Regions from separate parts of the Homo sapiens genome. Here all the other regions are linked to region 2. Evidence: fine-mapped expression QTL. A gene starts in region 2. Each other region holds a variant in brackets. All regions are shown on one strand. Distances are from middle to middle.

Region 1 (5,156 bases), 140 kb before region 2:
TCCATAGGTTGTCTCTTCACCCAATTGATTCTTTCTTTTGTTGTGCAGAAGTTTTTTAGTTTGATATAATCTAATTTGTCTATTTTCCCTTGTGTTGCCTATGAGGAAGAACTTTTAGTTAACATGCTATGGACTAGGCTTCAAGAGGCTGTTCACAGGAAAGCTGACAACCATGCCTAGAGTTGCTTTTGCCTCTACCTTTGCCCAGGATTTCATCATCTCTCACCTGGAATCTTGCTCCAGTTTCCTAACTGATCTCTCCTCCAGTCTCTCCCCAGCCTAGCGCGTCCTCACACTGATCTGAGTTATCACCACCCAAACCAATCTTACCTTTCATTCTCTTACTTAAAGACCATTTAACCCCTATTGGCAGGGTGAGTTCCCAAGGAGGCTGAATGAGACAAAGACTAGCAGGCAGGATGTTTATTAGGGAGGGCTGTTGGGATTAATACCTGTAGAAGAGAGAGAAGAAGGCAGGATTGGACACACAGGGAAGTTGAGCTCCAAAGTCATCACAACAAAGCTTTAGCTAACCTCCTGGGAAGCTCTGAAGTTGGGATGGCCCTTCAGAGTTCTTCTGAATTGGAGTGAAATGACAGAGTATACTTCTGTGTAGACCACTCATTGGTTGCCCCAGGAAGCTGGTATGAGCTTGGGATAGACAGCTGCATGCATAAAAAAGAGATTCCAGAAGAGAGTTGCAAGTAAGGGCCATCTGCCAGCAGCACTCCCTGCAGCCAGGAAAATATGCCATTCAGGACTGAAGGTCATTACATTTCCCTATACCAATAGAATACCACCCAACTCTTCTACATGACATGCAAGGCCCTTCACAATCTAGCTCCTGCCACATCTCCAACCCCACCTTTCTCTACTCCCTACTGCTTAACCCAAGTACATTAAGTTTCCCAGGGGTGTCTTGAAAATGCTGTCACTTTCACAATTTGTACATACTATTCCCTCCTAATAGGATGCCCTCACCTTCTGTATTAGTTTTTAATGGTTGCTGTAACAAATTACCACAAACTTGGTGGCTTAAAACAATGCACATTTATTCTTTTACAATTCCTGGAGGTCAGAGTCCAAAATCAGTTTTACTGAGCTGAAATCAAGGTGTCAGCAGGGCTGTGCTCCCTCCACAAGCTGAAGGGAAGAATCTGTTTTCTTGCCCTTTCCAGCTTCTAGAGCCACATTATTTGCATTCTTTGGCTCATGACTCCTTCTTCCATCTTTAAAGCCAGCAGCACAGCATCTTGCTCTAGTGTCACATCAACTTCTGCTTATGCTGCTGCTGCTAAATCTACCTTTGCCTCTCCCTTATAAGAATACTTATGATTCCATTTATGGTCCCGCTGAATAATACAGAATAATATTTCCATCTCAAGATACTTAGCTTAGTCACATCTGTTAAGTCTCTTTTGCCACATTGTATGGTTTGGCTGTGTCCCTGAGAGGTGAAGCCAGCTGGGCTTCTGGGTCAGGTGGGGACTTGGAGAACTTTTCTGTCTAGCTAGAGGATTGTAAATGCACCAATCAGCACTCTGTGTCTAGCTAAAGGATTGTAAATGCACCAATCAGCACTCTAAAAACACACCAATCAGCGCTCTGTGTCTAGCTAAAGGATTGTAAATCCACCAATCAGCACTCTGTAAAAATGCACCAATCAGCATTCTGTGTCTAGCTAAAGGATTGTAAATGCACCAATCAGCACTCTGTAAAAAGGCACCAATCAGCACTCTGTATCTAGCTAAAGGATTGTAAATGCACCAATCAGCACTCTGTAAAATGGACCAATCAGCACTCTGTAAAATGGACCAATCAGCAGGATGTGGGCGGGGCCAAATAAGGGACTAAAAGCTGGCCACCTGAGCCAGCAGCAGCAACCCACTGAGGTCCCCTTCCATGCCGTGGAAGCTTTGTTCTTTCGCTCTTCACAATAAATCTTGCTGCTCCTCACTCTTTGTGTCCGCACTACCTTTATGAGCTGTAACACTCACCACGAGGGTCTGCAGCTTCATTCCTGAAGTCAGCAAGACCATGAACCCATCGGGAGGAACAAGCAACTCTGGACATGCCACCTTTAAGAGCTGTAACACTCACTGTGAAGGTCTGCAGCTTCATTCCTGAAGTCAGCGAGACCACGAACCCACCAGAAGGAAGAAACTCCAGACACATCTGAACATCTGAAGGAACTCCAGACACACCATCTTTAAGAGCTGTAACACTCACCACGAAGGTCCACGGCTTCATTCTTGAAGTCAGCAAGACCAAGAACCCACCAGAAGGAATAAATTCCGGACACATCCCCACCCAAAATCTCATCTTGAATTGTAATAATCCCCACATGTCAAGGGCGGGACCAGGTGGACATAATTGAATCATGACAGCAGTTTCCCCCATACTGTTGTCATGATAGTGAGTGAGTTCTCATGAGATCTGATGGTTTTACAAGGGGCTTCCTCCTTTACTCAACTCTCATTTCACTCTCTTGCCACCATGTGAAGAAAGATGTATTTGCTTCCCCTTCCACCATGATTGTAAGGTTTCCTGAAGTCTCCCCAGCCTTGCAGAATTATGAGTCAGTTAAACCTCTTTTCTTTATAAGTTACTCAGTCTTGGGTATGTCCTTATAGCAGCCTGAGAATGGACTAATACATCCTATAACCCCAGGCTCCAGGGATTAGGACTTGATCTCTTTGGGGACCATTATTCACCTACCCCATCTACCTTGGCCCACTTACATTTAAGTCTCAGCTCAATTGTCACCTCTTGTGTGAAACTTTTCCTGACACTCCAAGGTGGGTAGAACTGACAGCCATTTTTTTCCCCAGAACTTTATCCATATCTTTATTTATTAGTTTCCATGTTATGCTGTACTTCATTTATAAGACATGGATTCATTCATTCATTGAGAAAT[T/C]TCTATGCGCCCAGGCATTGTTGTTAATTCTTAGGGTTAGAGAAGTGAACAAATTGGACAAAAGCCCTGCCCTTGTCTGACTTCTATTCTAATGAAGGGAGATACACAATTTTTAAGAGAAAAGAAAAACAAATAGTGTGTTAAAAAGAAACAAGTGCTGAGGGAAAAATAGTAGATCATGGTATAAGAGATTAGGCATGCAGCAGGGGAAGACGCAGGTAGGTGCAACTTAAAACAGGTGGTCAAGGAAGGTCTCATTGGGATGGTGACACTGAATAAAGTCGTAAAGGAGATTAAGATGGATATCTGGCAGAAGAGCCTTCTGGGTAGAGAGAACTGCCAGTGCAAAGGCTCTGAGGCCAGAACATGGCTTAGGTATTCAAGGAACAGATAGGGGAGCTCCTAGAGTTTTGAGCAAAGGAGTGACACAAACTTTTATCAGGATTCTTTTACCAGTGCTGTCCCAAGACTTGGGCCTGGACAAGATTGGTAAAGATGACAGGTGTTAAATGTAGGTGGGTGAGAGAATCCTATCAGCAGGTGAGGGAATCCAGGAGGAAATTGTTTCAGGTGGGGAGGAGAGAAAGTAATGAATCTAGTTTTAAAAATGTAGAACTGGAGATGAAGGTGGAACATCCTAGTGGAGAGGCTCAGATGAGGGTTGACAGAATTTTAGATTTGAAAGATCATCTGGTCTATCCCTTCATTCAAGAAATATGAGCCTGCAGTGGTGGCCTCTCATTCTTACCCCATTCTCCACCTGCCACCAAGTTTCTGCATCTTGCCATCCCTCCCCACTCCTAGGTTGCTTGCATGTCTTTTCTCCACTTCCAGGACTTACCTCCAAGTCCAACTCCTTTGGTAATGGTCTGTCTACGATTTTATCCTCTTCAGAATTCCTGTCCTTTATGATCTGATATTTGGCAATATCTAGGGAAAAGGTATTGTACAGAGAAAAGAATGCAAGTTTTGGAAGCAGACAGATAGGATTAAAATCCCAGCTCAGCCACTTCCTAGTGTGTGATCTTAGGAATTCATTCCTCCTCCCTGGGCCTTAGTTTCTTCATATTAAAATGTTTTTAAAGGATTGAAAATTATAAGTCTACTTCATAAACCTATGTGAGTATCCAAAGACAATGTTTACAAAGCACCTGGTATGTATTAGGCACTCAATGAATGCTGATTCCTCCTTCTCTGACTGCTTGCCCCTTGCCCACAGTTCCACTGTCTGCAGTGGGCATTTTTATTCTTTTCCCTTATTATATTTAGTGACTGTTTTATTTATAAATATATATTTGTGACATTTTATTCCAGGCCACAGCAGCCCAGGTTAGAATACAAGATTATGGGAAACCTTTTCTTGGTAATTATCTACTTGAATATACATAAAAATCACCTGTACAATTGTCCATGTCAATTTGTTAAAACTTATTTGAATATTTTCAAACATAGTCCACAGTAGAAGAGAATAATAGTACAATGTACCTCCAAGTACTTGTTACCCAGCTCCAATAACTGTCAACCTTAGCCAGTCTTGTTTTATCTATCTGCTATCCTCAATTTTTATTTCTGGAGTATTTTAAAGCAAAACTTTAGACATCATATTATTCCACTCATAAATAATTCAGTGGGTATCTCTAGTATATAAGGATTCATCTTAGTTTGCTAGTGCTTCCATAACAAATACCATAGCCTGGGTGGCTAAAACAATAGACAATATTTTCCTCTCATTTTTAGAGGCTAGAAGTCCAGATGAAGGTGCCGGCAGGGTTGGTTTCTCCTGAGGCCAGCCTCCTTGCCTTGCAGATGGCCACCTTTTCACTGTGTCCCCACATAGCCTTTTCTTTATGCTAGTGCCCTACCCCATGGCTCTTCTTCTTATAAGGACACTTAGGACCCCACCCTGCTCCCACTAGATTAGGTCCTCATTTAGCCCCTGTAACCTATTTAAAGGTCCTTCTTCTAATACAGTCAAAATGGGGGTTCAGGCTTCAATATATGAATTTTGGGGGAATATATTCAGTCCACAATAGGACTATAAAAATATATGACCACAACACCATCATCATGCCTATAATAATAATAACAACGGTTTAATACTCTCTAGCATTCTGTCCGTGTTCAAATTTTTCTGGTTGTTCCCCAAACATTTTGTTAATAGTTGGTTCGTTTACATTATAGCTCAAAAGATGGAGGATTTTTGTTTCTGTTTTTGTTTGTTTAAAGAAAGAGATTCCTA
Region 2 (5,156 bases):
AGCCTGGATTAGAACTTCAGGCAATTTGACCACAAAATAGCCTACATTCTCAAGCACTGTACTGTTACTCTATTTCTCTTAGACAAAAATCTTTGCAGGTTATTTTTTTCTTATATAAGTGTCAAGAAATTTAGGCTTAGGGAATTTAAGTGGTTTGTCCAAGGACACAGCTAGGAAATGATGGAAGCAGAATTGAACTTCAGGTGGGCTGACTCCTGAGCCCTTAGTTTTAACCATCACCCCATACCTTTGTTTTATATCCTGTCAACTTCTGAAATTTTAATTGTTCACTTATTAGAGATATGAAACTCACTTTGTTGCACCTTAATGCCACCTATATTTTCTGGTTAAAATATATGTATACCAACACACCCCCACTATTCTTGTTTATAAATCTCCACCCTTCCAGAGTCTCGTGACGACAGAATTCATTTCAATGAAATTATTTATAGGTGGAAGAAAGTGGAAGGAGACAATATGTATGAACACAGTCCCTACCTTCAAGGAGTTTGTTTTCTGGTTGGGAAAGACCTAAGTGTGGAGGTTGACTTAGAACAAGAAACAGGATGTACCTGCTTAAGTCTAAGTAGGTGAACTTAGGTACTAGATACTTTGGAACAAGTTAAGATTGTTAAGATAAAAAGAGATTTTGCTTTGTGGGCTTGGGAACCCTGAAGATGAAATATAGGATATTGTTACTATAGTTGTTTCACTTTCAGATATTTCAAATATTAAGATTTTTTGATTCAGCTATGTGGAGATGGATAACATAATTGATGTATGTTCAATATTTACATACCTTTAATTTGGCATAAAAGTATTTTATATATTTTAAAATATAACTAATGAATTGTTAGCATGTTTTAATTGGTACAAATATGTTAGAGTTATTGCTTCTTCCATAGATTGATACATTTTATAGCTTTCAATGGTTCTTGTTTTAAATTCTGACATTCTTATATTTGTATCATGCTGGGATTTTTTGTTTTTTTTTTCCTTTTTATGGTTTTAAGACTTGCTTTGAAGTACCCATTTAAAAATAACTCGTTTTAGAATATAGCAATAAATAGTATATTCCTTTGTTACCTAAACTTTTCACAACCTTTATAGGTTACCTGTTTGTTAAGATCACTTTTATAAGCTAGTATTACAGGTTGCAAAGATCTGGAGATGAGTGGAGAGAAGAGAGTGTGTCTGTATGTGTGTGTACTCAGTGATAGCAGAATAGATTAGAAAGAGTATGTGTTTAAAATAACACACAACTTTATTAATTTATACAACTTTGGGTAAAATACATCATTTCTGAGTCTGTTTTTCCCTCTATAATGGGAATACAGCAAGGTTATTGTATTAAATGAGAATGTACAGCACATAGCATATCACAGATGTTCAAAAGTAACTATTATGTTTATTATTGTTTATTAATAAAAATGCTAGTTAATATGAAGAACACAGATTGAAGGGGGACCATGGTATTTTCTTTGTAAGTTTTCTCTTGAGAAATATCCCCCATGTTGGGTAAACAGAGAAAGAAGAAAAAAAACGATGAAATGATTGGCTTTGACATTTATTTATGGCTTTGGGAAATTTATAGGGAGGGAGATTATTTGTATTACCCTGTGCCCTTTTGACATAGGTAATTCAGGACGAAGGACATTTTTTTTTTCATGTACCTCTTTAACAGATTTTTAAGGCTTTATTCCCTATCCAAATGGGAAGGTAGGATTATTTTATTTCTTCAGTGAAAAATCAAATGATTTATATAATTTTAGAGTTAGGATTTCTACATTATGAAATTTTTGCTTTTCCCTTTAAAATATGAATCAATGATTGATTAAATTCACCAATTTAGAAATTGTTAGACAATCTTAAATTTCATTTGTTTAAGCTTTGCATTCTAGAAAATAAAATACACCTGGCAGATTAAAACTGATCTTGGTAAAAATATGAATAAAACAATTTCATGGTTTTTATAATCTAATAAAATATTTCTCCATCTTTAAACCTTTTTTATGAGTCCATTGCAGGCATATTCTTACTGCAACTGTCATTATAGGGTTAAACATTTGCTTTATTGTAACACACGAAAGCAGTTAAGCCGTTTGGAATTGTTTACTTGCTAAAACCACTGTTAGTCAGCAGAGGCAGTACACCAGATTTCCTTGTGGCTTTTAGTGGAAAATGTTAAAAGCGCACTCATTTTTCAGTTATAGAATTTTTTAGTTTGATTTGGATTAGTCACAGAACTGGCATGAACCTTCTAATTGTGAAGGCTGTCCAAATGCACTATTTTTTTCTCCTGCTAGAGGAAGTTACATCCCGAGAAGTAGCTCAGATCTCTGGTAAGTGTAACATGTGAGCATTACTAGGCATTTCATCCTGTGGGTCTGCAGTCTTTGCTCTTCAGACTGTTGCTCCGTTGGAATGCTTCTGTGGGACTGATACTGAGGTTCTATAGATATTTTTTAAGGACCTACTCATTTGGGGATGTCAGTGGTGTTTTGCAAGATCATCTGAGGAACAGGAAAGCATTTGAAATCTGAAAAGGATAACTGTGGCGGTTTTCACAGTGGAAGGAAACTATATTGGCAAAGAGGCAGATGACTGAATAAAGTAGTTGGCTCAAAGAAGATGCACAGTCTGCTATTTTTTTCTCTGAATGAAGACTGTTTAATGGAAGCTGTATTCATGTGGAGATCAAAGGAAACACTGGAATGATACACTACTATGTTTTTCCCCCCCCTTTTTTTTTTTAAAGAAAACAAAAAGCCTGAAGCAGTAATTTGAGCTCAAATGCCTTCTAATTCCTTCACAGCCTGCTTGTTCTACTAGGATTCTCCACTAACACCATTTCTGCCTGGTGCCTGTGCCCTTTTGCTGGAGCAGCCACAGACAACTGCCTGATGGAGAAAGAATGAACGCTCTGCCTTGCTTATGCTATCGATGGGAATAAAGCTAACTGTGTTTCTTCTATTATATGGGAAACCTGGATTAATCAAGCTGTATTCTAGTACCAAGAGTCGTATTGTCTCTTGTGGTCTGACTCATCACATGTAAACGTACTGCAGCTTTGCTATTAATGCAGAGTGGTTTTTTTTTTTTTGTTTTTGTTTTTTGCCCCTTTCCCAAACACTGAAAGAATTGTTAACCTCTGAGCTTCATTTTCAGGATTTGTGCTGAGCTCTAGATCTTTTTTCTGTGAATAGTATCTGCATTAAACCAGTGATGAAGAAATGAAGACAAATTAGAAGTGGAAACAGAATAGTGAGATTTTATTTTTTATTTTCAATTATAAGCAAAACAGCTACTGGTAACTATATGACCTTGCAGGCAAGAGTGGGTATCGCTGTGATCATCTCTGTCACAGCAGTTGTTTCTCATTTCATTCTATATTGTGTGGTGTTGTGTCACCAAAAACAATGATTGTTTTGTGCAAGTAAATTTCAGAGATAGAGCAATAAGACTATTTTGGTAGAGGAAAAATATTTTTAAATGAGCTTGGACTCAGTTTTAGTTATTGACATGTTGGTGTGAAATTTCTTCTTAAGTATTGCAGTAATCCAACAGAAATAATAGAATTTCGTTATATTTAGGAAGTTACAAATTATGTAGTCATAATTTTAAACTTGTTTTTCCAGTAGTACTTATTAACTTTAAAAAAAAAAAAAACCCAGCTGTGCTGTTCAGAGAATGTTTGTAAGTGTTGTACAGAAGAGGAGGAAAAACTACTTGTGCTCTTCCAACTGTGACTTTTATCACATAGCTTGGAATTTAGTGTTTTAAAAGATCGAATGAGTCGAGTGTGTATTGTTGTTTTGGAGGAGGTAGAAGATGAATCTCCTGCATTCATTTCTAAATTGCCACAGGAAAATAAATCCCTACATTCTCCACCTTCTGGAAATGTATTGGTAAGATATGTAAGTTTATATGTTTACTATATTCTACTGAACTAGTAGTATAAATCTTGTTTTTTAAGAATAGATGTAAATTTCCAATAGTTTCTTTACAAACCCAAATTAAAGCAATACGTGTGTAGATATGATGCAGTATTTTTGTATAAAATGCACATTTTTCGTTTTTACTTTTTTGAATGCTGAGATAACATTTCAGTCTTTACTATGTCTTAATCTCTTTAAAAGACTGTTTAAAAATAATTTGAGAATTAGTAGTTATGGCAACCACGTTTCTGTTTTCATTTTGTGGTTTCAGAAACTGATGTAACAAGAATCAGGAACTCTGCATATTTTAGGAAAGGTTGACTACCCCCAGCAACACTAAGGCATGGCCTTTTCTGTAATGAATTTTATGTATTTACATATAAGACTTTATATGAGATTCAGTCTTCATCTTTAACCTTGGTTTTAGTGCTACTGTCAGCTGGCTCCTTGACTAGTATAGTATACCTTATCAAGAGGCTGTATCGTTGATTAAGAAATTATTATATTTAGTTATGCATGTGTTTGTCTTTTCAAGTTATTTAAGTATCCAGTATTTTTTGGTCTTTGATTAGTGGCTATTTTCATCAACTGCCAGGTTTGCTTTCTTGGGATTTGTATCTTTATACATGTAATGCTAATCCATGTAAGATAATTTGATGCCCCAAACAGACCTTTTCAAAAAAGCCTTCCTTCATGGGCTGGAAATTGCTTAAAAAGTTCTGTCCCACAAGTAGATGTTGAGATCACACATTTGTATTTGGAAGAGTCTTTCTTTTTGTCATATACAGAAACAAAAGGCTTCTACTTACAAGAAATAAAATCTGATTTTGTTTATTATACTACCTAAATTGGGTCAAACTGAATTGATTTTTTTTTTTAATTAGGCCTTTTTTTTCCAAGTAGGAATCCTGTACTTTGACATGATTTGGTTTTATGAAACTTCTGGCTAATGTCAAAAGTGATTATTGCTACAGGGAAGAAAACTTGTAGATTCCAGAACTATGTAAAATATCCTTAGTCACCCCACATGGATGATTCTAATGTTTTTATTACTCTCTTCTATTTTAGCCATCACTGGTGCAAGCTATATTTAACGGAGATCCTGATGAAGTTCGAGCACTAATATTTAAGAAAGAAGATGTTAACTTTCAGGTAAAACAGTTAATTCACTGATGCCAGCCTTTAAAACTGCTTTTTAAAATTCTTTCCTAGAATTGT
Region 3 (5,156 bases), 34 kb before region 2:
CTTTTTATTCTTGTTAATAAAATCATTAAACTCTCCCATGTTCAAGAGCACGTGGAGGCATCACATTATCTGACTTCAAAATATACTGCAAGACTATAGTAACCAACACAACATGGTACTGGCATAAAAATAGATATATATATTACTGGAACAAAATAGGGAACCCAGAAATAAAGCCACATACCTACAACCAGCTAATCATCAACAAGAATATACACTGGGGAAAGGACACTCGATTCAGTAAATGGGTCTGGGAAAATTGGATAGCTATATGTAGAAGAATGAAACTGGACCCATGCCTCTCACCATATACAAAGATTAACTCAAGATGGATTAAAGAGCTAAACATAAGACCTGAAACTATAAAAATACTGAAGAAAACCTGAGAAAAATTCTGGACATTGGTCTAGGCAAATAATTTATAACCAAGTCCTCAAAAACAAAAATACACAAATGAGACAATTTTAAAAAAGCTTTCACACAGTAAAAGAAACAGTGAACAGAGTAAACATACAACCTACAGAAAGGGGAAAAAATATGTGCAAAATGTGAAAACTGCATCTGACAAAAGGCTAATATCCAGAATCTACAAGGAACTTAAGAAAAAAACAAACATTAAAAAATGGGCAAATAACACAAACAGACATTTTCCAAAAGAAGACATACAAGTGGCCAAAAAACATGAAAAAATCCTCAACATCATTAGTCATAAAAGAAATACAAATTAATCCACTTATGCCTAGTGTTCCATTATTGGAACACTAAGCATGTGGGAGTTATTTATATCCTACTGCTCAAGGTCATTGCCAAGTTCTGATTTTTCACTCATAATTGCAGCTTCCAGCATAAATGGGTTAAAACCATCTTATATGAGTCAGAATGGTTAGTTACTATTAAAAGGTCAAAAAAACAACAGATGTTGCCAAGGGTGCTGTATTAGGGTTCTCTAGAGGGACAGAACTAATAGGAGATATATATATACACACACACATTATATATATAAAAAATAATGTATATATTTTATATATATATAGTACATAATATGTAGTATATTTTTATATATTATATATATATGAAGGGGAGTTTAAGTATTAACTCACATGATCACAAGGTCCCACAGTAGGGCATCTGCCAGCTGAGGAGCAAGGATAGCCAGTCCGAGCCCCAAAACTGAATAACTTGGAGTCCAATGCTTGAGGGCAGGAAGTATCCAGCACAGGAGAAAGATGTAGGATGGGAGGCTACACCAGTCTAGTCTTTTCACGTTTTTCTGCCTACTTCATATTCCAGCTGTGCTGACAGCTGATTAGATGGTGCCTACTCAGATTAAGGGTAGATCCGCCTTTCCCAGCCCACTGACTTAAATGTTAATCTCCTTTGGCAGCACCCTCACAGACACACCCTGGATCAATACTTTGCATCCTTCAATCCAATCAAGTTGACACTCAGTTTTAACCATCACAGGTGTGAAGAAAAGGGAATGCTTATACACTATACACTATTGGTGGGAATGTAAGTTAGTAAAATCCTTATGGAAAATAGTATGGAGATTTCTCAAAGAACTAAAAATAGTGATACCATTTGATTCTGCAGTCCCACTACTGTGAATATACCCTAAGGGAAAGAAATCATGTCAAAAAGGTATCTACACTGGTATGTTTATTGCAGCGCTATTCACCGTAGCATATACGTGGAATCAGCCTAAATATCCATCAACAGAAGATTGGATAAAGAAAATGTGGTGTATATGTATAAAGAATGAAATCATGTCTTTTGCAGCAAACATGGATGGAATTGGAGCCCATTATCCTCCGTGAAATAACTTGGAAACATAGTCAAATACTGCATGTTCTCACTTCTAAATGGGAGCTAAACAAGGGTATATGGGACATACCAAGGGGATAACAGATATTAGAAACTACAAAAGGTGGGAGGTGGGCAAGGGTTGAAAAATCACCTGTTGGATACAGTGTTCACTATTTAGGTGATCTCTACACTAAAAGCGCACTTCATCACAATGCAGTAAGTGCATGTAAGAAATCTGCAGTGTATCCCCTAAATTTATTTTTAAAATTTAGCATAATGTTTTCATTGAACTGATGGAAATTAGAATTGAAACTGGGAGGGAATTTACCTAATCTTGAGCTTAAAGATTCCCAAAGAGTAGGGAGAGACACTTTTGCTCAGCACCCCTACACATAAGGAATTTTAAATGTAGGTATGTAATTATGTCACAGGCTTTCTAAATAATAAAATGCAAAATAATATTTTCACTTACCACATTTAACTTTGAATGTATTTCTGCAGATATTGCTGAGAATGCAGAGAAATTTCTTCCTTTATTCTATTTATTTCCCTGTAGCACTATCTGAAGTGATCTTATTTGTCTATATGTTTATGAAATGTCTCACTCTACTGGAATGTGAGTTCTTCAAGGGCAAATACGATGTCTTTTATTTACTGCTGTGTCTCCAGCACCTGTAACAATGCTTTGGCATATAGTGGACACTCAATTGCTGGATAAATAATGAATTCTGATTAAGTGTGTCTGAGATAGGACCCTGGCACCTATATTTTTAAAAACTACTGGGGGTTATTTTGATGTATACTCCCAAGGTTGAAGAAAACTAGTCTATCTTCCCTCTGTGGTGTGCATAAGATACAGAAAATATATATGTATCCTTATTTAAAGATCATTGTTAGAGGCTTCTCCTTCTCTTGAAATTGGTAATCTGACTGAGTTCCCCAGAAGGAAGAGTTTTTAGTTCACCACTTCTATCCAGATATTTTTTGAAGGTAGAACTCAGAATGTGCAATTGCTTTCCATCATCAAATAATTAACATTAGGAAAGGCAGGAAGGTAGAGCTAAAAGTGAATTTATTCCCTTTTTTTGTAAAAGATAAGGCAAGGTCAGACTACCTAGGTGAGTTTCCTGAAACAGTGATTTTCAATATTGAGGGGAGAGCGATTTTTCTCCTCAGGGGAATTTGACAGTGTCTG[G/A]AGACATTTTTTGTTGTTACCACTGGGAAGGAGGGAAGGATACTATTGGCACCTATTGGACAGAGGCCAGGGATGCTGCTAAACATCCTACTGTGGACAGGACGTTCCTCTATAACAAAGAATCATTTGGTGAGAATCCCTGCTCTAAAACAAGCTGCTTGGAGAAGGGGCTGGTAGTTATGTGGAGTTTGGCAGTGCAATTTGGATCTGTGCACATATGCACAATAGTTTTTGGTCTTGGGCAAAACAGTGTCTTGTGTAGAGAAACATGTAGGTGGGGATTGGCTTTTGTTATATATACTCAGGAGTTTGATCTTGACCAGCTTGTTTAGTTTGTGGGAGATTGTGCACTCTCAGATTTGATAATTTGCTTAGAAAGACTCACAGAACTCAGCAAAGCAGTTAAATTAATGGTATGGTTTATTACATCAAAAGAATACGGATTAAAACCAACAGTGGGTAAAGGTGCATAGGACAGAGGTCCAGGAGAGTTTCAGGCGTGAACTTCCAGATGTCCTCTCCTAATGGGGTTGTGCAGACAGTGCTTACTTTTCCCAGCAACAATATATGGTGACACGCAAGGAGTATTGCCAACCAAGGCCACCCACGTGAGGTTTGCTGTCCAGAGTTTTTATTGAGAAGTCAGTCACATAGGTATGGTTGACCACACCTGTGGCTGATGTTAGTCTCCATCCCCTCCAGAGGTCAAGCTGATACTCCGTGACTTAAAGGTCCCACCAAGAATCATATTGTTAGACTATCTGTCATGGACCAAAGCCCCCAGGTAAACAACGACTCTTTATCAAGCAGGACATTCCAAGGGGTTAGCAGTTACCTCCTAGGAGCTGAGCAAGGGCCAAACCTTTCTTTGGCCAAAATTAATCCATTACTGCAGCAGTCCCCAGTGTTTTTGGCACCAGGGACCAGTTTCGTGGAAGACAATTTTTCCGTGGATGGGGGTGCGGTGGGGGGTGGGATGGTTTTGAGATGAAACTGTTCCACCTCAGATCATCAGGCATTAGTTAGAGTGTTGTAAAAAGCACATAACCTAGATCCCTCAGATGTGCAATTCAAAATAGGATTGGCAGTCCTATGAGAATCTAATGCTGCGCTACTCTGACAGGAGTCAGAGTTGAGGTGGTAATGCTTGCTTGCCCGCTGCTCACCTCCTGCTATCCAGCCCAGTTTCTGACAGGCCATGAATGGCTAGCAGTCCTCAGTCCAGGGGTTAGGGACCCTGGTCTAAGAGACTTCTCATAGTGTGGTCCATGAACCCCTGGGAGTCCCTAAAGTCAAAACTGTTATCATAATAATAAAATGTTATATGCGTTTTTTACTTCGACATTCGCATTAATGGTACAAAAGTAATAGTACTTACTGCTGATGTATTAGGAATCAAGTTAGTGGCACCAGACTGTGTTTTTCACTGCCTTGCTTACAGTTAAGGGGAGGGAAAAGCCTATTTCCCTTAAGATTGTTTTTAAGTATAAATTACTTACATTACACTTCACCCTGGGGTGTCTGTATGATAAAATGAGTATATGCTGCACAGGAAAAATGCTTATGTGATTGAGTTGCTAGCTGGACTAGACTTTTTTTTTTTTTTAATAGAATACCTTTTTACTTGAAAAAACAACTAACATTATGGTTATTCAGATTTGGCTCTTTGGCAAACCTTTTATTGAAAATATTCCTTGAAAAGGAACAAAGTGAACTTGTCACTTCAAGGAAAGCCACTGTCAATATTTGTTACAGATGATGAAATTTGAGCTTCCAAGCAAAATTAGAATTTGAGTAAATCTGTATCGGCCACCTTGAGCTTGCTACCTTTACAGAGCTTAAAGATGTTTTGTGGTGGCTTTGGTAGTAATATTAATAAATATGACTTTTGATATTGTATATCATGAAACGTGTCAGTAATTGAAGACCTTCGTAAACCAGTGAACCAGCATTTTCCAAATTACTGATATATGATATTGTAAAATGACACATGGGTTAAAAAAGATCCATTCAAAGTTCAGTTAGACCAATGGATTTTAATGTGAAAAAAGTACTAAAAGCTCATTCATATGGCTTCATAATTCACATTATAGTTAACTTCTAAGAGATATCACTTGTCAAGCTTTGATGTAATATCAAAGATTGTCCACAAGTA
Region 4 (5,156 bases), 180 kb after region 2:
TAAAAAAAGCATTTAAAAAATAAAAACTAAAATCAAGTAACTGAAAACTGGAGTGGTGAGGTGATACTGGAACATGTCCCAATCTTGATATCCAAGGGGTTTAGATTTTAAAGACCATGAAGGACAGAAAGACAAGATGTGGAGGTTGGAGTGAGATCTGTGCATATAGCTAGGAACCTTAAGGAATGATTCCTTTATTGAAAGGATGGACAAAAACAAATATCTGCCTGCCTGCCAAAGTAACTATCTGACGTAGAAACTTGTACATCTCATCTTGGGCTCTGAGCAGGGGAAAATAGTACTCCTTGAAAGTCATAACCAACATAATCAAAGGTTTTCCTTATGTGGGTTCATGATTCAAAAACTCACAACATACATGACCCAGGTAACTCTATGCCAAGAAATGAGCACAAAGTGATTTTGAGATGTTATCAGTCCTAAGATGCCTGGAAAAGCCTATCCACATACTCTCTTCTTGAAGACTGAGTGTCCTGGGTTGAAGAACAAGGTAAACAAGAGCTCAAAATTCAAAATTACAAAACACACAAGGAAGCAAATATTATGCAAGAAAGTTAAAGAATACAGCAAAATCAGGCCCCCAACAACTTCAGATGGAAGGATTACTAGTGAAAATTTTCAAATAAGTACACTGAAGTTGATTAAAGAAGTACTCAGAGGACTCTAAAACAGGTAAAAGAATAAGATATTGTTGGCTGGGAGTGGTGGCTCATGCCTGTAATCCCAGCACTTTGGAAGGCCAAGGCAGGAAGATAACTTGAGCCCAGGAGTTGGAGGCCAGCATGGGCAACATGGCAAAACCCCATCTCTACAAAAAATACAAAAATTAGCTGTGTGTGGTGGTGCATGCCTGTAGTCCCAGCTACTTGGGTGGCTAAGGTAGGGCGATTGCTTGAGCTCAGAGGCGGAGGTGGCAGTGAGCTAAGATCACACCACTACACTCTAGCCTGGGTAATAGAGAGAGACTCTGTGTCAAAAAAAAAAAAAAAAAGAAAAAGATATTGTCAAATAAAACCAAATGGAGACATTTTGTGGCATGGCCGTTAGAATCATTAAAAAATTTGTTTAGAATGTACCACAGAGATGACAAAAGGGAAAAAAAGAAGATGAGACATGGAAGACATATATGATGTTCCATGATATTTCTAATTGGAATTTCAGAAGGAGAAAATAGAGGCTGGGTGCAATGGCTCATGCCTGTAATCCCAACACTTTGGAGGTCAAGATGAGAGGATCACTTGAGGCCAGGAATTCAAGACCAGCCTGGGCAATATAATCTCTACAAAAAGTAAAAAAGTATTAGCTGGGCATGGTGGTGTACACCTGCGGTCCCAGCATCTCAAGAGGCTGAGGTGGTAGGATTGCTTGAGCCCAGGAGTTTAAGGCTGCAGTGGGCTACGGCTGTGCCACTGTACTCCAGCTTGGGCGACAGAGCAAGACCTTGACTTAAAAAAAAAAAAAAAAGAAAGAAAGAAAGAGGGAGAAAATACATAAAATGACACATGACACATTACACATGTTTGAAGGTATAATAGGTGAGAATTTTAATAATAAAATACAGAAATCCATAGATTCAAGACAACCAAAAAGAAATCTATACACAACATAAAGAAACCAGAACACGAAATATTTGAAGAAGAAAAAAATCTTAGACGCAACCAGAGGGAAGAGAGATTGCCTTCAAAGATATGGTGATTTGAAAACAGCAGACTTTTCAAGAGTAACAATAGAAGTAAGAAAACAAAATCTTAAATGTGCTAAGAAAAAATAACTGTGAACCAGAATGGCCTTGTTCACACATAAACCTCCTACAGTAGAGGAAAAACTCACTCAAAAATGAGTAAATAAAAAGCTCAAGATCTTTTGAAAGATACTATACGAAAACAAAGGTTATACCCCAGAAAATTGCCACAACACAAATAAAAACTGTGACAAAACATTCTGCCACGAGTGAAAAAAAACTGCTTATATTAAATAAAAGCACAAAATAGACCAAGAGAATTAAAAGATGAAAGGGAAAAAGGGGAGAAGGGGAGGAAAGGAGGAGAAGAGGAGAAGGTAAGGAGGGGGAAGAGG[GA/A]AGAAGAGAGAAGGGAGAAGGGAGTGGGGAATAGAAAGCTGGGAGACAGATGAAATATTATCTGGCAGGGCTCAGGAAAGAAGCAGAAGAAAAAATTAAAACATCAAGAAATTATGGCAAAGATAGAAGCAGCAAAAGAAATCAGATGATGCTGTAAATAAATAAGCAACATGAATGGAAATACAGAATTGAAAAGGAGTCCACAGAAAATGATAGACAGGGAGAACAGTGAACGAGATCCATCATATGCATAATTGGAAAATGCATAAAAGAAAAAAATAATGTGTGGTGGACACACCCTAAGGTGACTCCTTGTATAATCCTCTTTTCTTGAGTGCAGGTGGAAATTGTACTCTGTTACTAGCCAATAGAATATGACAAAGGTGAAGGGCTTTCACATATGTAGTTAAAATCCCAAGCCAGTTAATCTAGTTAATCAAAAGAGATTACCCTGGTGGGTCTGAATTAATCAGGTCTTTAAAAAAAGAACTGGGGTGCTCCAAGATTTCAGACACACTCTCTCCCCGGCTGACCTTGAAGAAGCAAGCCACCATGAATACTACAACTGCAAGGAAATTCATTCTTTCAACGATCAGTTGAATTTGGAAGAAAACTCAGCCTCAGATGAGACCATGAGGTCAGCTGACAACTTCACTGTAGCCTTGTGAGATGCTGACCAGAGGATCCAGTAAAACTATGCTCAGACTCCTGACACATAGAGACTTTGAGATAATAAATGGGTCTTGTTTTAAGCTGCTGAATAGGTCGTAGGGTAAATTTTTATACAACAATAGACAACATATAATGAAGCAAAAAAAAAAAAAATTAAAGATGTAATTGAAGAAAACTCACCAGAAATAAAAGCATATTTCAATTTATAGCTTGAAAAGAGATAGCAAAACTCAAGAAAGAAAGGAACAGAACATCAACATCGGCAGATAGCCTAGCAAAATTCTTGATCTTCAAAGATAAAGTAAGAATCATTTGGGAAGCTAAATAAAAAGATCAAGGGTATTTATTAGGGGCAAAATAATCAGGCTGTCCTCAGACTTTACTACAATAACATCAATGCCAGTAAAAGCCTATAGAATCCTTCCAGAAAATAAAATATAAGCCAGAAATTATATATTATGCCAACCTATGGTTGAAGTAAAGAAAAAAACCAGATAATAGGTATGAAAATATAAGAACTCAGGGACTATTATTCTCATCAGTCTCATCAGCCTTCTTTGAAAAAATGCATAGAGGGTAATCTTCGGCCAATTAAGAGGTGAATGGAAAAACTGGCAAGAGCCTTGAATGTAAAATAAACATGAGGATTATATTTATAGAACACAGTGCAAATGTTATTAACTCTGGCAATGTAGAAATTGTAAAACTAACAAAAGGTGGTAACAGTGAGGAAAAGAGTAATGGCATGCTCAAGAAAGCAAAAGGAAGGAAATAAAAATAAGAGTGGAAATTAAATTAGAAAACAGAAAAATGACAGAATGAATAAGTATGTCCAAGGAGTTGTTGTTTAGAGAAAAAAAAAGGTAAAGACAAATGATCGGCTAGCCTAATTAAGAAAAAAAAGAGAAACAAATATACAAAACAAAGAGAAATCTATAAATGCAGAAGAATTTTTTTTAAAAAAGAATAATCACCTCATTCAATCCTATATTGATAAGCTAGAAAATTTAGACGAGTAGTTTCCTAGAAAAAAAATACATTATTTGTTTTTTCTTTTTTTTTTTTGAGACTGTCTCACGCCATCACCCAGGTTGGAGTGCAGTGGTGCAATCTCAGCTCATTGCAACCTCTGCCTCCTGGATTCAAGCAATCCTTGTGCCTCAGCCTCCAGAGTAGCTGGGACTGAAAAATATATTTTTACCAAAACTTCGGATAAAAGAAAAAACTAAACCATGCCAACAATCATAGAAGAAATAGTTATCAAACAATCATTCCCTCCCATTCTCCACCCTCAAAACAGGCCCAAATAGTTTCTAGAAGAATTCTTTCTAACTATAAAGGAAAAAATAATCCTAATGCTACTCAATGTGTGTGAGAATATAGTAAAAGAAGGCATTTTTTTCTTATGAAGTGATAAAAATCTGATAATAAAACCTGACAAAGGCAAGAGTCATGTAGGACCCAGGATCCCTCTCTTTCTGGGCCTAACTTCTTGGCATGTAGCTTCCATTTTCAGAGTCATCTTGTGGTTCCAAAATGACTTCTACAACTCCAATTATCATGTTGTACAGAGGAAGAGTACAGAGGGTACTTGCCAGTTTCATCAGCTTTCCTAAAAGCCCTGCCCAGTGACTCCTATTTAAATTGCTTTGGCCCATGTGTGGACGCGTGACCACTCCTAGCTACAAGGAAGGCTGGGCAATGTAAACTGCATTATCACCTTGAATAAAATCAGGATTTTTCCAGGTAAAATACAGGTGGCCCAGTTAAATTTAACTTTCAGATAAATATGTTGGAACATACTTACGCTAAAAAAAATTATGCATTGTTCATCTAAAGTTCAAATTCAACTGGGAGTTTTGGAGTCCTGTTTTTTTTTTTTTTTCTAAATCTGACAACATTACCCATGAGGGATCAAGTAACCATGACCCTGACTTTTATACTCATCACTTCTTTGTTTTTTAAAATAGCTTTATCACCCAATGTGCATCCCTAGACACTGTAGTTTAGTCTTGTCCATTAAAAAATACCCTATCTTTTAAATCTCTTTTAATCTAAAGGTTCCTCTTCCATCCCCTCTAGTTGCTTAAAATTAATATAATAAACAAGATGGCTTCAAAAGAATGAAGTCCAGGGACTACTTGTCCTACCAACATCAAGACTTATTTTAAAAACACAGAAATTAAGATAGTGTGGGATTGGTGTTAGGATAGGAAAAGAACAGAGAGTACAGAAATACTCCCATAAATATGCGAGCTTGACATTCCACAGAGGGGAAATTATGTATCACTGGGATGAGAATGAACTATATTATGAATGGTGCTTGGACAACTGGATGTTATGGTAAATTGACTATAAAAAAGGCCAGCAATTTCTCCCCTCTCTGTAT

The links. PIP is the estimated chance that this variant, and not a neighbour inherited with it, causes the effect. A credible set is the group of variants that fine-mapping cannot tell apart.
Region 1: its variant is the best candidate, but not a certain one, in a credible set for the expression of ANKRD28 in whole blood (TOPMed, PIP 0.57).
Region 3: its variant is the best candidate, but not a certain one, in a credible set for the expression of ANKRD28 in whole blood (TOPMed, PIP 0.83).
Region 4: its variant is the best candidate, but not a certain one, in a credible set for the expression of ANKRD28 in whole blood (INTERVAL, PIP 0.77).

Annotation. Positions count from the first base shown.
Region 1 is chr3:15,938,201-15,943,356 of GRCh38, reverse strand. It overlaps LOC107986064 (a long non-coding RNA gene), which reads right to left. Exons shown (of 10, transcript XR_007095831.1): 3 at 3,759-3,847; 4 at 453-731. Among named protein-coding and RNA genes, the nearest start is that of MIR563, 67 kb to the right of the region's middle. The variant T/C (reference allele first, on the strand shown) is at 2,918.
Region 2 is chr3:15,795,157-15,800,312 of GRCh38, reverse strand. It overlaps ANKRD28 (ankyrin repeat domain 28), which reads left to right and starts at 2,334. Exons shown (of 28, transcript NM_001349278.2): 1 at 2,334-3,908; 2 at 5,007-5,090. The coding sequence starts at 3,792.
Region 3 is chr3:15,829,391-15,834,546 of GRCh38, reverse strand. It overlaps a transcript of ANKRD28 not described here. Among named protein-coding and RNA genes, the nearest start is that of ANKRD28, 34 kb to the right of the region's middle. The variant G/A (reference allele first, on the strand shown) is at 3,002.
Region 4 is chr3:15,610,452-15,615,607 of GRCh38, reverse strand. The region is part of intron 1 of BTD (biotinidase); the gene reads right to left. Among named protein-coding and RNA genes, the nearest start is that of BTD, 11 kb to the right of the region's middle. The variant GA/A (reference allele first, on the strand shown) is at 2,095.